Linked DNA regions of Homo sapiens: region 1 is linked to region 2. A link means that fine-mapping ties the variant in region 2 to the expression of a gene that starts in the linked region. Tissue or cell type: lung. Region 2 holds a variant in brackets; the other region holds the start of a gene. All regions are shown on one strand. Distances are from middle to middle.

The links. PIP is the estimated chance that this variant, and not a neighbour inherited with it, causes the effect.
Region 1: NXN starts here. The variant in region 2 is fine-mapped to the expression of NXN in lung (TOPMed, PIP 0.95).

What each region holds. Positions count from the first base shown.
Region 1 is chr17:975,664-983,766 of GRCh38, reverse strand. NXN (nucleoredoxin) reads left to right here and starts at 3,991. Exons shown (of 8, transcript NM_022463.5): 1 at 3,991-4,448. The coding sequence starts at 4,089. RefSeq lists enhancers at 2,424-2,718, 4,143-5,078.
Region 2 is chr17:928,840-936,942 of GRCh38, reverse strand. All of the region lies in intron 1 of NXN (nucleoredoxin), which reads left to right. Among named protein-coding and RNA genes, the nearest start is that of NXN, 47 kb to the left of the region's middle. The variant G/A (reference allele first, on the strand shown) is at 3,666.

The sequences.
Region 1 (8,103 bases), 47 kb before region 2:
TAACACTCTTTCAGTAGTGCCTAACCCACGTACCCAGTGCATGGGCCTTTCAGATAAGATTTGGATGAGATGATAAAACATTGTAACCCATTTACAGGATTTCAAAAGATGTCTAGTAACTATGTGTGTGTGTGTGTGTGTGTGTGTGTGTGTGTATATATATACTTTTTTTTTTTTTTTGAGATGGAGTCTCTCCCTGTCGCCCAGGCTGGAGTGCAGTGGTGCGATCTCGGCTCACTGCAAACTCCGCCTCCCGGGTTCATGCCATTCTCCTGCCTCAGCCTCCCGAGTAGCTGGGACTACAGGTGCCCGCCACCTCGCCCGGCTAATTTTTTGTATTTTTAGTAGAGACGGGGTTTCACTGTGTTAGCCAGGATGGTCTCAATCTCCTGATCTCATGATCTGCCCGCCTCGGCCTCCCAAAGTATTGGGATTACAGGTGTGAGCCACCTCACCTGGCCTAGTAACTTAATATATATGATATGAGTAGCTTTAAATGTTTTCACCAAGGCCGGGTGGTGGCTCATGCCTGTAATCCCAGAACTTTGGGAGGCTGAGGCGGGTGGATCACTTGAGGCCAGGAGTTTGAGACCAGCCTGGCCAGTATGGTGAAAACCCCGTCTCTATTAAAGATACAAAAAATTGGCCAGGCTTGGTGGCGGACGCCTGTAATCCCAGCTACTCCAGAGGCTGAGGCAGAGAATTGCTTAAACCTGGAGGGGCGGAGCTTGCAGTGAGCCGAGATCGCGCCACTGCACTCCAGCTTGGGCAACAGAGCAAGACTCTGTTGCAAAAAACAAACAAACAAAACAAAACAAAAAAATTAGTGCATGCCAGTAATCCCAGCTATTTGGGAGGTGGTGCATGCCTGTAATCCCAGCTACTCGAGAGGCTGAGGCAGGAGAATCACTTGAATCTGGTAGGCAGAGGTTGCAGGAGCTGAGATCGCACCACTGCACTCCAGCCTGGGCAACAGAGTGAGACTCTGTCTGTAGGGACCAGCCCCACAGGGTCAGTGGGTCTCTCCCCGTGTGCGGAGACGAGAGAGTGTAGAAATAAAGACACAAGACAAAGAGATAAAAGGCAGCTGGGCCTGGGGAACCACTACCACCAAGTCGCGGAGACCGGTAGTGGTCCCAAATGCCAGGCTGCACTGATATTTATTGGATACAAGACAAAGGGGCAGGATAAGGAGAGTGAGCCATCTCCAATGATAGGTAAGGTCATGTGGGTCACGTGTCCACTGGACAGGGGGCCCTTCCCTGCCTGGCAGCCGAGGCAGAGAGAGAGAGGAGACAAAGAGAGAAACAGCTTCCACCATTATTAGAGACTTTTAGTACTTTCACTAATTTGCTACTGCTATCTAGAAGGCAGAGCCAGGTGTACAGAATGGAACATGAAGGCGGACTAGGAGCGTGACCACTGAAGCACAGCATCACAGGGAGACAGTTAGGCCTCCGGATAATTGTGGGCGAACCTGCAGTCAGGCCCTCCACAAGAGGTGGAGGAGTAGAGTCTTCTCTAAACTCCCCCCGGGGAAAGGGAGACTCCCTTTCCCGGTCTGCTAAGTAGCGGGTGTTTTTCCTTGACACTTACGCTACCGCTACACCACAGTCCGCCTGGCCACGGGTGTCTTCCCAGACGCTGGTGTTACCGCTAGACCAAGGAGCCCTCTGGTAGCCCTGTCTGGGCATAACAGAAGGCTCGCACTCTTGTCTTCTGGTCACTCCTCACTATGTCCCCTCAGCTCCTATCTCTGTATGGCCTGGTTTTCCCTAGATTATGATTATAGAGCGAGGATCATTATAATATGGGAATAAAGAGTAATTGCTACAAACTAATGATTAATGATATTCATATATAAGCCTATCTAAGATCTATATCTGGTATAACTATTCTTATTTTATATTTTATTACACTGGAACGGCTTGTGTCCTCGGTCTCTTGCCTCAGCGCCTGGGTGGCCTGCCGCCCACACTGTCTCAAAATAAATAAATAAATAAATAAATAAATAAATAAAGTTTTCACTAAAAAGTGATGCTTTCTGTGTGTGTTTTATAATATTGTCCCTACAGTGGCACAGACTTTCAGCATGAAAGTCTCCTGAGAATTAAGGTGGAATTCGACTTTGCAGTAGGATTCTAGGGTGTTCGAAGGCGGTCCTCCATCTAAGATCTTACCTGTGTCATTAGCAATACCAGCAGGTGACTAAGGAAGTGGATATAACTTGTAGAGACGCCAGTCCACTTTCCGCTCCCATCTCCACCTCTCCCAATTGTTTTATATGGTAACATTTCACCAAGCTGGAACCCTGCACCATTCCTTATTCTACCCTAGAAAAACGGAGAACCTTCGATGTGAACACTTACGTTTTGTGCCAAAAGCTTGAAGTTCTATTCTGAGGTTTAAATTAGCTCCCGCAAAGCGTCCTATCATTTGTGTATGTGGAAAGCTGCTGTAAAATAAAAGCATTGTGCCTGGTGTCCCGGCAGTGTCTTTTCACAAATGGAGTTTGGTCGGCCTCATTTTTCACTCTTTCCATTAGGTGGCGATGGATGCACAGGAAATATCCTCCGAAGCGGCGGTGGAAGCTCTGAGAGGGGCGGGTTTTCAGCTTTTATTTTTTTGCTTTCGCTGAGTCGTCAGTAGCTGATCCACACCGGCGGCCTGTTACTGTGGCTGGGCCCGGATCTGCACCTGCTTCGTGCACCAGTGGGTTGGGTTGGGGGGAGGCGCTGCGTGGCCAGAGTACTCGCCACGGACCACCTGTTTTTTTGTTTTTTTTGAGACGGAGTCTTGCTCTGTTGCCCAGGCTGGAGTGCAATGGAGCGATCTCGGCTCACTGCAGCCTCCGTCTCCCGGCTTCACGCCATTCTCCTACCTCAGCCTCCTGAGTTGCTCGGATTACAGGTGCCTGCCACTACACCCCGCTAATTTTTGTATTTTTAGTAGAGGCGGGGGGGGGGTGTCACCATATTGGCCAGGCTGGTCTCGAACTCCTGACCTTGTGATCCACCCACCTCGGCCTCCCAAAGTGCTGGGAATTCAGGCGTGAGCCACCGCGCCCGGCCCAGACCACCTGTTTAATCCAGCTTCTCCCTAAGCATTGGGGAGCATCCTGCCAGCTGGTAGGAAAAAAAAAATCTCTAGAAATGTTCTCAACTATCCATAGACTTGACATGAGGATGGAGCGGATTCAGGAGCGCGGCCAGCATTGGTCTGGAGGCCCCGCGGCGTCCTTTGCATCCATTTGTGGGGCTGGAAGACAGATTCGCTGGGGGGAGAGGCCCCGGCGACCCCTGGACGGAAATCCCACACTGAGACCTGGCACCCTAACCAGACCCCACCAGAAGCTGCGAGGGCGTCCTCGGCCCCCTTAGAACAGCTTGGAACACACAGAGGAGTCAGTGTCCAGCCAGGCCCGGCCTGATGCAGTGAGGACGGCGGGTCCTATAAGCATCTCAGGGTCAGTGGGGCCCGGAGCGGCCTAAGGGTCAGGCTTCGTGCAGGGAGAGGAGGAGGGAAAGGCCGGGGAGGAACAGGAAGAGGGTGAAGAGCTCCGCGGGGAGGGGGCGGGATCCCTGGAGGTCTGGAGGGAATTTAGAACTGGGGAGGAGAGAAAATGCGGGCCGGGCTGCAGCCCGGGAAAGCGCCGGCTCAGCGGGCCCTTCTCCTTTCTTCACTTCGGCCGTGGGCTTTCCAGGGAGAGTGCGGCGTTTCGGGTCCGGCTTCTCGCCCAAGCAGTCACCCCGCGCACCGCGGCCGGCAGCTGCGGACCCCGCCTGGGCGGAGAGCTCTGGCCACCGCCGGCCGCAAACGGGGCGTGGCGAGGGCGGAGGGGGCGTGGCGAGGGCGGGCGGAGGGGCGTGGCGAGGGCAGCCGAAGGGGCGTGGCGCGGGCCGCGGAGGGGGCGTGGCAGGGCGGGGGAAGGGGCGTGGCGCGGGCAGGCGGAGGGGGCGTGGCGTGGGCGGCCCTACTGGGCCGGGCTCTGCTCTCCCCAGCGCCTGCCGCCGACGCCGCCGCCTCCTCCCGCCGCGCGGACCGTGGAGCGGGGTCGCAGCCGCCTGCCCGCCCTGCGGTGGGCCAGGATGTCGGGCTTCCTGGAGGAGCTGCTCGGCGAGAAGCTGGTGACGGGCGGCGGCGAGGAGGTGGACGTGCACTCGCTGGGCGCCCGCGGCATCTCGCTGCTGGGTCTCTACTTCGGCTGCAGCCTCAGCGCCCCCTGCGCGCAGCTCAGCGCCAGCCTGGCCGCCTTCTACGGGCGCCTGCGGGGGGACGCGGCGGCCGGGCCGGGGCCGGGAGCGGGGGCCGGGGCGGCGGCGGAGCCCGAGCCGCGGCGGCGCCTGGAGATCGTCTTCGTGTCCTCGGACCAGGACCAGCGGCAGTGGCAGGACTTCGTGCGGGACATGCCGTGGCTGGCGCTGCCCTACAAGGAGAAGCACAGGAAGGTGAGCGGCGCGGGCCTCGCCGGCCCCTGCCCGCCCCCCACGCCCGTTACCCCTGCCCGCCCCCCACGCCCGTTACCCCTGCCCTCCGCCAACCCCGTTGTCCCCCTGCCCGCCCTCCACCCCCCGACCCCTGCCCCCAGTCCCCCGCCCCCCGACCCACTGTCCTCTCCCCGCCCCCCACCCCGCCGTCCCCGCCTCTGCCCCCCCCCCTTCCGCGCTGTGCCCGCACCCTCATCCCAGGACCCCTCTTTGGTTCGAGTGCTGCGCTGCGCCCGCCCTGGAAAGTTGGACCCCCCTCGGCCCCCGGGATCCCGGCTCGAGCCCCTCCGTCCGCACACGCTGGGAGCCTCGGGTGGGGGCGGCTGCGCTCGGGGATCCCGGTTCCGCGACCCCTTCACCCGCGAGCAGAGGCGCCAGGCCCTTCCTGCCTCCGCCGCCGACCCCCGCGGATTCCCACAGTGGGGAGGGGAGGGGAGGGGAGGGCGCACGCCCCCCGCCCGTGGCGCCCAAACCAGCGCGTTTCCTTTCTTTCCGGGAGAAACCTGCCTTCCCGGAGCCCCTTCCCCGGGGACCGGGGACCTGGGGGCCGAGGCCGAGGTCAGGAGAGGCGGCCGGTGACCGTGGCCGTGGCTGTGGCCGAGAAGGGCGCTCACGGCTCCGTCTCCCGCCCCCGCCTCCCCCGCCCCAGGCTGAGTTCGCGGCCACCGGGGAGCTTTGCATTGTCTGGCCGTCCAGCCTCCTCCCCAGACGCCTCCCGGGCGCGGGAACAGCCCGGGCTGTGCAGAGCTCAGCTGCGTGGTGGCCCCTGTGGTCCCGGGGTCTTCGAGTTAAGGGCTGAGCTGACCCCATCGATGCACATTGACTGGAAGAAGGAGGATTTGGGGAAATGGATACTTTGCTGTCAACTTCTCGTGTCTCCCAGTTTGCTGCCGAGTTGAGTTTGGGTTTCTGAGTGTGTCCCTTGGGTGAGGATGTCTGTCTCTGTGATAATAAAGCACATCCAGGACATTTTGTAATGAATGGAGTCAGAAAAAGTTTTGGAGCGCTGTTGCTTCGTGAGTGTATATGATGCAACGTGTGAATCCAGCCCCTTTCCCTTTTTGAGGAAAGCCTGTTTCTGGAGTGGACAGAAGGGCTATTCTGGGGGCGTTTAGTTTCCTCTGGGGAGCATGGCGAGGCGTGCCACGTGTTCCTTTTATATGTGCAGAATCTTGTTGAGAAGCATGATTTAGATTTACTGGGAGCAAAAGGCTTACACTGTGACCCCAAATGTCTTGAGTAAATCATCCATCCCGAAGCAGTGGGAGGTAGAGATTCGAGATTTAAAGTATGAAATACAGTTGATCCGATGCAGTTTGTAAATTTCATATTGGGAAAACATAGGTTCACTAACCACTCAGAGGCAAGAGTTGGCATTTTTACTGCTTTTTAGGTTATTTTGCCCATTTTGATTGACATGCTTGATATAGTATGAATATGCATGGCCAGTACTTTTTGATTCAAAATACGAGAATCCTTTGTTTTCCTTGGTGGTGGTTTTTGTGATACGTTCGTGGAGAAATAATGTTCAGAAAGGGATTTGCCAAAAAACATTTTCATTGTTACGGCAAGTTTCTGTTGTAGACTAAAGTCTACTTAAAATAATGTCCTTATCCGGCAATACAAATGATTTCTAGCTTTTGAAAACATAGAATTATGGTAAAATGTTACAGGCTTAACAGCCTATTGTTGTGTTTTTTACTGAAGAGGAAATACATTTTTTGGATAGTAAAAATATGGAGCAAACAGATGTTTTGCAAATGCTTAGAGCTTTTTCCGAAAAAGGAGAATATTTGATAGGACATGGGCCATGGCTGGCTCTCTATACCCTGGACAGGCTCTTTGCATGACAAAAAGTATTCTGCGGCCCTAGCCTGGACCTGCTGATTCCTCCATGATGAGAACCTGGATGACACAGGGCAGACTCTCATTTGAAAATACCGTTGAGAGTGCTGGACGTGCCCAAACCCTGGTGCGTTAGCATCTTAAACATTTTATTTTTTGGCCCAGAGTTTTTCTGACTCACATCCTATACTTTATTCTCTAAAACCAGTCCAGTTTTCAAGGAGGTAGTTTCTTTCCTTGGTCGTGAACAAACCACTCAAGATCTTTCTCGGGGATATATACCAGGTAAAAAGACTCCAGCTGTCCTTCTTATGGAACACATACTCTTGGAAATTACAAAAGCTACGTGCTGATTTTAAAAGGAATTATTGCCGGGTGCGGTGGCTCATGCCTGTTATCCCAGCACTTTGGAAGGCTGAGGTGGGCGGATCACCTGAGGTCGGGAGTTCCAGACCAGCCTGACCAACATGGAGAAACCCCGTCTCTACTAAAAATACAAAATTAGCCAGACCTGGTGGCGCATGCCTCTAGTCCCAGCTACTAGGGAGGCTGAGGCAGGAGAATCGCTTGAACCTGGGAGGCGGAGGTTGCGGTGAGCCGAGATCGCACCATTGCACCCCAGTCTGGGCAACAAGAGCGAAACTCTGTCTCAAAAAAAAAAAAAAAGGAATTATTTTCCCCCTTGAAACCAAAGAGATGTGGAACAAATGCCTTTTCTGTAACTGAGTTTTTGTCTCATTTGAAGTTAGGGTGCTTAGAAGCCCGTGAGCTAATGATGCTAATTTCCCCATCAGAACAAGTGAAGAGCCGGAGTTCTCCCAGCTGAGGGCACTGGATGGGTGAACACGTCTTGTGGATGGACTCTATCCGTGTCATTTCGCCAATGATAAAAATAACTCTAGAGAAGGGAATTTTGTTTTACACTGAAGGGAAACCAGAGTTCCAGATTGCTAATTTTTTTTAAATTCTCATTAACATTTGTTCTTTAAGCCCATGCGTATACTTCTTCCCATTGGGATAACAAAGGGTATGGTTCTAATTAGTTATTGGCTGGCATTTCTCTAAAGAAAATTGAAAAATTATGGTGGGGAAAGAAAATGCTGTGTGGTATTTCTTTTTTTCTTTTATTAATTTCTCCTTTATATAGTTAAAAAAAACCTGGGGATGACCGTATATGTTAAGCCTGCATTTTGCCTGGTTCCTCTCACCTTGACAGGAACTGTGAGAAAACACCAAAAAAAAAAAGGACAAAAATGTAAAAAAACATTCTTTATACAAAATTGTCCTGTTTCTGCCTGTTGTCATGGTAGGTACAAAAGTAATTGAAGCTTAATTTTTTTGGCTTCCAAAACACATATTATTTCAGCTTCCAAAACACACATTATTATATAGCTGTGCATAAATTGTAATTAGATGGTAATAGAACTTTGAGAGCATTTATAACAATTTCATCAGCAAATCTATAATCCTGAAGTTAAGGCAGTTAGACTTGTTTTAATAAGTAGGTTGGTAGATGATTTTCACATTTCTAGAGAGAAGGAATGTGATCGATAGTCAGGAGGTGGTGAAATTTGGACTTTGGGGATTTGGTCTTCCCTTTGGATTAGTATGTTACTCACTCGTCAAGACTGGAGAGGTCCGTCTCCGGGATCCACTTCAGCCTCATAGAAGTGAGCACTCTTTTGGTGTTAAAGTCGCAGAGCTCAACTTTGTCTGGGCTGGATGCCTGATCAAAAACATATGGTCAGTGTGGGTGCACTGACATCCAAGG
Region 2 (8,103 bases):
GCGTGAGCCACCGTACCCGGCCTTTCTGCCTCTTTTCTATCCATAGGTGTTGTGATGGTGAACACAGGCCTGCCTTTTCTGGAACACTCCCAGTTTTATGTCATTTTAACTTTTTCATTAAAGGTGAGCTTATGTGGGGAAGTGTGACTTAACTGTAATACCTCTGTGAAGTATCTCGTATGCGTTTGCAAGTTAGAAAAGAAATCCGTTATAAATCCATGGATTCTGAAAACTGGTACCGCCGACAGCTCTGATGCCCCGTTTTAGCCAGACATCGTAGCACCCTTTTTTTCCCTCACTGTTTGCACAACCAGAATTGGGCACCCCAGACCTGAGGCAGGCCGACACACCTCGCCCTTCTCTCCTGCCCTTCCTCCAAGTCCAGTTTTTCCGCAGCAGAATCCTGCTTTCAGTCACTTTTGGGGACCGGAAGGTGTGGAAGGAGAGAATCATCGAGCTGGGTGGTGGCAGCACGCGGCGTGTGCACTGACAGGATGGGCTTGACCTGGGCAGATGCTGGCCGGGTTGTGTGTGGTGCACACTCACCACCTCACCGTGGACACTCACCAGGGCACCCGTCGCTGCAGTGCCTCAGAGGGAGGGCGGCTCTTCCACCCCACGGGAGAAGAACACAAAGCAAAACCAAAGGCTTTGTCGCAGGGGACGTTTCTGGTCTAACAACAGGAGGTTGCTTCCACCAGGCCCCACAGCATTGAGCCCGATGGCGTGTCTTGAGTCCATAGGTTGAATCGAGTGGCGTGCTGGTGAGAGGGACACACTCCAGCCATCTTTTGGAGGACAATCGATGGAAGCACAAGCAGGAGCTGGAGGTTTTTTTTTTTTTTTTTTTTGAGATGGAATCTTGCCCTGTTGCCCAGGCTGGAGTGCAGTGGCACGATCTTGGCTCGCCGCAACCTCCACCTCCTGGGTTCAAGCGATTCTCCTGCCTCAGCCTCCTGAGTAGCTGGGATTACAAGCATGCACCACCACATCCAGCTAATTTTGTATTTTTAGTAGAGACTGGGTTTCACCATGTTGGTCAGGCTGGTCTTAAACTCCCGACCTCAGGTGATCCACCTGCCTCCACCTCCCAAAGTGCCGGGATTATAGGCGTGAGTCACTGCGCCCGGCCTAGGCTGCAGGTTTTATTCCAGGCAAGGATGTGGCTGGCATGGTATCTAGTGGGATGTTATGAAAGCTGGCTTTGTTCTGCAGGATGGCAACAGTCAATACCCGCATGAATAGCAGGCTCTCCCAGCTCTCAGAGCAAGCTCCTTCTGTGATTCCTGGGCGTGTTCTGCAGAGCTCAGGGTCTTAGACACAGTAGACGCTCAGTAAACACGTGTGGAGTGAATGAGCGCAGAGCTCATTGATCAGAGTGCATGTTTGTTGCAGCCGCCAGCACATCCTAAAGCTGGATCCTGAAGTGTCTTGGTCTTTTCCTACAACCTTGCCAGACCTTTAAGCATCTCCTTGTCCCGCCGGCCATGACCGAGCGGAAGCCTCCCACTTCTCAGTGTTCTTCAGCTGGGGGGTTTCTGGCTGTCACACAGACCACATGATATAGGAGGTGGGGGTTTTGTGCCAGAGGATTCCCAGATACGAAGGAATTGGAGCAGAGTCCTGCGGCTGTTTAAAGAGCACAGCAAGGCCGGGCGCGGTGGCTCACACCTGTAATTCCAGCACTTTGGGAGGCCAAGGTGGGCAGATCACCTGAGGCCAGGAGTTCGAGACCATCCTGGCCAACATGGTAAAACCCTGTCTCTAGTAAAAACACAAAAATTATCTGGGCGTGGTAGTGCATGCACCTGTGATCCCAGCTACTCAGGAGGCTGAGGCAGGAGAATCACTTGAACCTGGGTAGTGGAGGCTGCAGTGAGCCGAGATCACACCACTGCACTCCAGCCTGGGAGACAGGGTGAGAGACCCCATCTCAAAAAACAATAAATAAATAAAAAAAAATAAAGAGCACAGCAAAATGATGCAATAATGAGTGGCAGCAAGTGAGGACTCTGTCCAGACAGTCCGCTTGGGACTGGGCTAAAAGAATGTTCTTTCTTTTCTTTTTTTTGAGATGGCGTCTTCCTGTCACCCAGGCTGTAGTGAAATAGCACGATCTCGGCTCACTGCACCCTCCGCCTCCCGGGTTCAAGCGATTCTCCTGCCTCAGCCTCCCAAGTAGCTGGGATTACAGGTGCGTGCCATCACGACCAGCTAATTTCTGTATTTTTAGTAGAGATGGGGTTTCACCGTGTTGGCCAGGCTGGTCCCGAACTCCTGACCTCAGGTGATCCACCCACCTTGGCCTCCCAAAGTGCTGGGATTACAGGCATGAGCCACTGTGCCTGGCCGAGAATTTGGGTTGGAATTTGGCCAGACTTGGGAATTTCTTGACTGTAAGTCACCAATTCAGCGTCTTTTCCAGAAATGACTTTCTATACTTCTCTTACTTCCAGAAGTAAGTTTTCTTCTTATTGTACTTTTTTTTTTTTTCTTTGAGACAGAGTCTCGTTGTGTTGCCCAGGCTAGAGTGCAGTGGTGCTATCTCGGCTCACTGCAAGCTCCATCTCCCGGGTTCACGCAATTCTCCTGCCTCAGCCTCCCCAGTAGCTGGGACTACAGGTGCCCGCCACCACGCCCGGCTAATTTTTTTGTATTTTTAGTAGAGACAGGGTTTCACCGTGTTAGCCAGGATGGTCTCAATCTCCTGACCTCGTGATCCGCCTGCCTGAGCCTCCCAAAGTGCTGGGATTACAGGCGTGAGCCACCGCGCCCGGCCTCCCGGGGTGCTGGGATTACAGACGTGAGCCACGGCGCCTGGCCTTCTTATTGTACTTTCTAAATTTCCCCATAGTCTGCATGTATGACTTTTATAATCATAAAGTGAAAAATAAAATGCCTTTTTAAAAATTAATTGAAGTTTGAGAACATCGTGTCATTTGTTTTAAATCACATAGTGAGGCATGCCACCCATTTCCCCTCCTGTTTATTTTTCAATTAATAAAAGGCAAGGGATGTTTATGCTTGAGGCTTGAGGACCTTGGCTGCTTGTATTGGAATCCACGACTTTAGTCCAAATTGATAAGTGTTCTGGTATTTGTGGAGGCTTTTTATTTATTTTATAAAAACCAGCTTACACGAAGGCACATTTCTAAAGTTGACCACGTAGGCTTCAGGATAAACAGCTTTCTAGTTAGTGCCTCGTGAATAATACGGATATGGATTTACTGGAGGTGTCTTGAATGTGTTCTTATTGCATTGTTTTAAGTTAGTGGGAGGCCAAGATGAAAGGGGGAATTTCAAGATAAGCTGTGTGAGTCATTTGGTGTTGCGGTGGGGAGTTGAGAGGGATGGAATTTGCCTTGGCATTCACGCAGAGTCCTGGTGCAGAAAGTGTGTATCCAAGCAGAAGGTGGCCTGGGCTTGTCGGAGTCAAGGGGCCCTCATTTTGGCTGGGATTTGGGAAGTGAGCATGTCGTGAGTCTAATATTAGAAAACCAGTTCTTCCCCTTCCCCCACCCCCATCCTGAAAGCTTTTCTGTCCCTGTCGCGATGTGTGCCCGGAGTCTCTCCCGCTCCTGTCTCGAGTGCTTTCTCTGTGAGCATTCATTTAATTTACTTCTTGGCTGCCTATCTTTTTACTAATCAGATTTCCTCCTCTGGCC[G/A]AGCTCTTCTCCCAAAGGCCTCAACTTTGTCTTCAGCTGCCTCGCACCAGTTAGGGGGTTCTGTGTTTCAGAGGTGGACGTTGGCTTCTGTAAGTGGTAACTGCAAATCTGGAGTACAGAATCACATCAGATCCACAAGAGTTTTCTGTTCTGTGGTTGGTTGTGTCGTTTCTCGGTCCTCGTGGCCCCAGAATGATCTTGCCTTCTGGAACCTCTCGGGACTTTTTCGCCCACTTGGGAGCTTCGGGCCACAGCCTTTGATGTTAGTGGGAAGGGATATTACAAGTGGTCATGACGACTGAAACTGAGCAGGTTCAAGAGGACGGGCTGGGCTGGGCGCGGTGGCTCACGCCTGGAATCCCAGTACTGAGGGAGGCCGAGGCGGGCGGATCACCTGAGGTCAGGAGTTCGAGACCAGCCTGGCCAACATGGAGAAACCTCATCTCTACTAAAAATATAAAAATTAGCCTGGCGTGGTGGCGGGCGCAGATGACTTATGCGAAGCCGGCCACAACAAGGCACTCCCCACCCACTCAGCTGCTTGTCCGGGGACCACACAGCCCACTCGCTGCCCACTGATGGCAAAAGTCGGTGCCTCTCAGAAGCCTCTTCCGGTGATGGGTCCTTGCTGCTGACCCCACTAGAGCTCACACAGGGCAGGGGCCCAGAACCTGGGGAAACTAGCCCTAGAGATCCTTTAAAATCCAGCCTGTGTTTTCTTAGAAGGGGCTCAGGCCTTCCCCTGAAGCTGCCTTACTCGCTGAGGAGACGACGACTGGACCCAACGCCGCCTCAGAGTTTTGTTTTGCTGAAGACCTGCGGTTTCCAAACTGATGAATAACCAGAAGGACTGGTTAAATGCGGATTCCTGGGCCCCATCCCAGAGTTCTTGACTTGGTAGGTCCAGGCTGGGGCCCAGTAGTTTGCAATTCTAGCAACAGTTCCCAGGCAACCCGGAAGCCGTACGTCCAGGGACCAGAGTTTAAGAACCGCCGCCTAGGACCAAAACAAGGCCGGTTTGGGTTGGTAGCTGGGCAGGTAGACAGACTCTTCAGATCAGCTTTGCCTTAGCTTTTTTTTCCAGGATTCCAAATAATTAAACATTTCTAAAATTGTTCGTTTTGTTTTATTTTTGAGATAGGGTCTTGCTCTATTGCCCAGGCTGGAGTGCAGTGGTGCAATCTCAGCTCACTGCAACCTCCGTCTCCCAGGTTCAAGCGATTCTCCTGCCTCAGCCTCCCCATTAGCTGGGATTATAGGCACCCACCACCACACCTGGCTAATTTTTGTATTCTTAGTAGAGATGGGGTTTCACCGTCTTGGCCAGGCTGGTCTTGATCTACTGGCCTCGAGTGATCCCCCCGCCTCGGCCTCCCAAAGTGCTGGGATTACAGGCGTGAGCCACTGCGCCCGGCCAAAAATTTTTTTTTTTTTTTTTTTTTTGAGACGGAGTCTTACTCTGTCGCCCAGGCTGGAGTGCAGTGGCGTGATCTCAGCTCACTGCAAGCTCCGCCTCCCGGGTTCATGCTATTCTCCTGCCTCAGCCTCCCGAGTAGCTGGGACTACAGGCGCCTGCCACCACGCCCGGCTAATTTTTGTATTTTTAGCAGAGACAGGGTTTCACTGTGTTAGCCGGGATGGTCTCGATCTCCTGACCTCACGATCCGCCCACCTCGGCCTCCCAAAGTGCTGGGATTACAGGTGTGAGCCACTGCGCCCGGCCAAAAATTTTTTTAAAATAAATAACATGTGCTTATGGCGAAAACAAAATCAAGTAGTATACATAGGCTTATTATATGACTTTATCTTTCTTGTTTTTTTTTTTTGAGACAGGGCCTTGCTCTGTCACCAGGCTGGAGTGCAGTGGTGTGATCTCTGCTCACTACAACCTCCGTCTCCCAGGTTTAAGCATTTCTTCTGCCTCAGCCTCTCCAGTAGCTGAGATTACAGGCACACACCACCACACCCAGCTAATTTTTTTTTTTTTTTTTTGGATGGAGTCTCGCTCTGTCGCCCAGGCTGGAGTGCAGTGGCGCGATCTCAGCTCACTGCAGCCTCGACTTGCTAGGCTCAGGCAATTCTCCCACCTCAGCCTCCTGTGTCGTTGGGCCTACAGGCGTGCGACACCACACCCGGCGAACTTCAACATTATGTGTTGGTTTTCTGCTAGGCTAGAGATCGATTTAGCTCCCTTAAAAGCAAACTCACCAGCCGGGTGCGGTGGCTCACGCCTGTAATCCCGGCACTTTGGGAGGCTGAGTCGGGCGGATCATGAGGTCAGGAGTTCGAGACCAGCCTGACCAACATGGTGAAACCCCATCTCTACTAAAAATACAAAATTAGCTGGGCGTGGTGGCTCACACCTGTAGTCCCAGCTACTCAGGAGGCTGAGGCAGGAGAATCACTTGAACCCGGGAGGCAGAGGTTGCAGTGAGCCGAGATCGCACCACTGCACTCCAGCCTGGGCAACCAGAGCGAGATTCTGTCTAAAAAAAAAAAAAAAGCAAACTCAACTTTCTTTGTCCTCTTGGTATACCACCATTTACGGTTTTCCTGGTTACACTTTTAGCATTTAATAACATGTTTATGCCTTTACTCCTTATCCTTCAATAGGACTTTGGGAACGTTGGTGTCTTTCTATCCTGCCCATCAGGTCTCCTGCACTTCCTTCCTATTTTTTGTACCTTTAGCTTTGTCAAGGTTGTTCGTATTTACATTGTGTTGTGTCACCGGGATTCATGCTTTGTGTGTAGTTGAAAATCAGCCAGTCAATCAATAGGGGCATTGTTGTGTCTGTAAATATTGTTTGTGGCAAGTTCAAGTGGTATTTTTTTTTCTTTTTTGAGACGGAATCTCGCTCTGTCACCCAGGCTGGAATGCAATGGCACGATCTCAACTCACTGGCAACCTCCGCCACCCGGCTTCAAGTGATTCTTCTGCCTGAGTCTGCTGAGTAGCTGAGATGACAGATATCCGCCATCACACTGGCTAATTTTTGTATTTTTAGTAAAGATGGGGTTTCACCATCTTGGCCAGGCTGGTTTTGAACTGTTGACCTCACGGTGATCTGCCTGCCTCAGTCTCCCATAGTACTGGGATTACAGGTGTGAGCCACTGCACCCAGCCTGAGTCCCCTTTTTAACTTGGAGAGTCCCCTTTCCTGGGAGTTACCAGTCCTCCTCCATTCCAGACACAGGTGGTTCTCTGGGTCGGCTACACAGCTGTCATTCTGGAACTTTCTTCGGTACTTTCCTGAGTTGGATTTTATTCTAACCCCCGTCATTGATTGATTCCAAAGTTTTTTTTTTTTTTCTGTAGTTCAGATACCAGTTAGATGTGTTACCAAGGAGATCTTAAAGAGCAAACTGCATTTTCGAGAGCAGAGCTTTAAAATTTAGTATGTGAGTTCAACAGGTTACGTGTAAATGGGAATCAGCTGTCTTTGGATTAAACACTACTACACAGTTTTTTTTAAGAAGATTAAAAACGGAAGTGAAGCAAGGATTCCAAACGCTCTTTCCAGAGCAGCCCAGCTGCTTTGCAACCTGGACTTGAGCCTCCTCCGGTTGGGTCAGTCTGGAATCAGAGCCGCCTCCAGGGATTGAGGGATGCGTGGTAGGTATGGTGGGAAATGCTAAGCTAAGGTTGAACCCAAGTCCTGAGTTGAAATCCCGGTTTTAGTTCCTGTTAGCTGGTTGATCGCCCTTCTATTTTGGACAATAAGCCCAGCCTTCCTGGAATATTGGGAAGGTTAAATAAACCAGAGGGTAGGGGGGCACACTGGAAAACTGGGATGTTCTTCACAGACAGGTTGTCATTGTGAAGCTGTGAGATCAGATGTTGGATCTTGCTACAGGAGCTAAACCTGCAAAAGCTGTAAGTGAAGACCGAGCTGGAGTTTCGTGCACAGTCAAAACGTGTAGCCAATTGGACATATTTAATAACGTGAACCAGTGTTTTCCTGCAGGACTCACCAACTCAAATGCCAGTAGAGGGCCAGGCAGGTGAAGCGAGTGGCCTGGGCCAGGTGGTGGGGGACAGAGTGGAGGGCCGCAGCCAGCCCTCGGGGAAAGCCGGCGCTCACCTCCAGCTGCCTGTTGCCGTAATGAAGGCCGACGTTGCCAGCTCTTCTGATTTTTCAAGCTAACAAACTGGGTTTTTATGTGAAGCTAGTTAAGTTTTACATGCTGTTAGCCAGTTAAAATTTTTCTTGACATTGGGCAAAGCCAAACAAAGCACATATGCCATTCACTAATTTAAGGCCTCGGCTTTACTCTGTGGGAATTAAGTGTGAATTGCAAACAGTTCCTAAAAGTTATGATGTGTATTGCATTTATACAGCTGATTACGCGTTTAGGCCATTTGCTCATCTGCTAGTCTTCTTGATATCTGCACATGTGAGCGGTATTCTCCAGTATCTTTTATTTCCTTAATTATT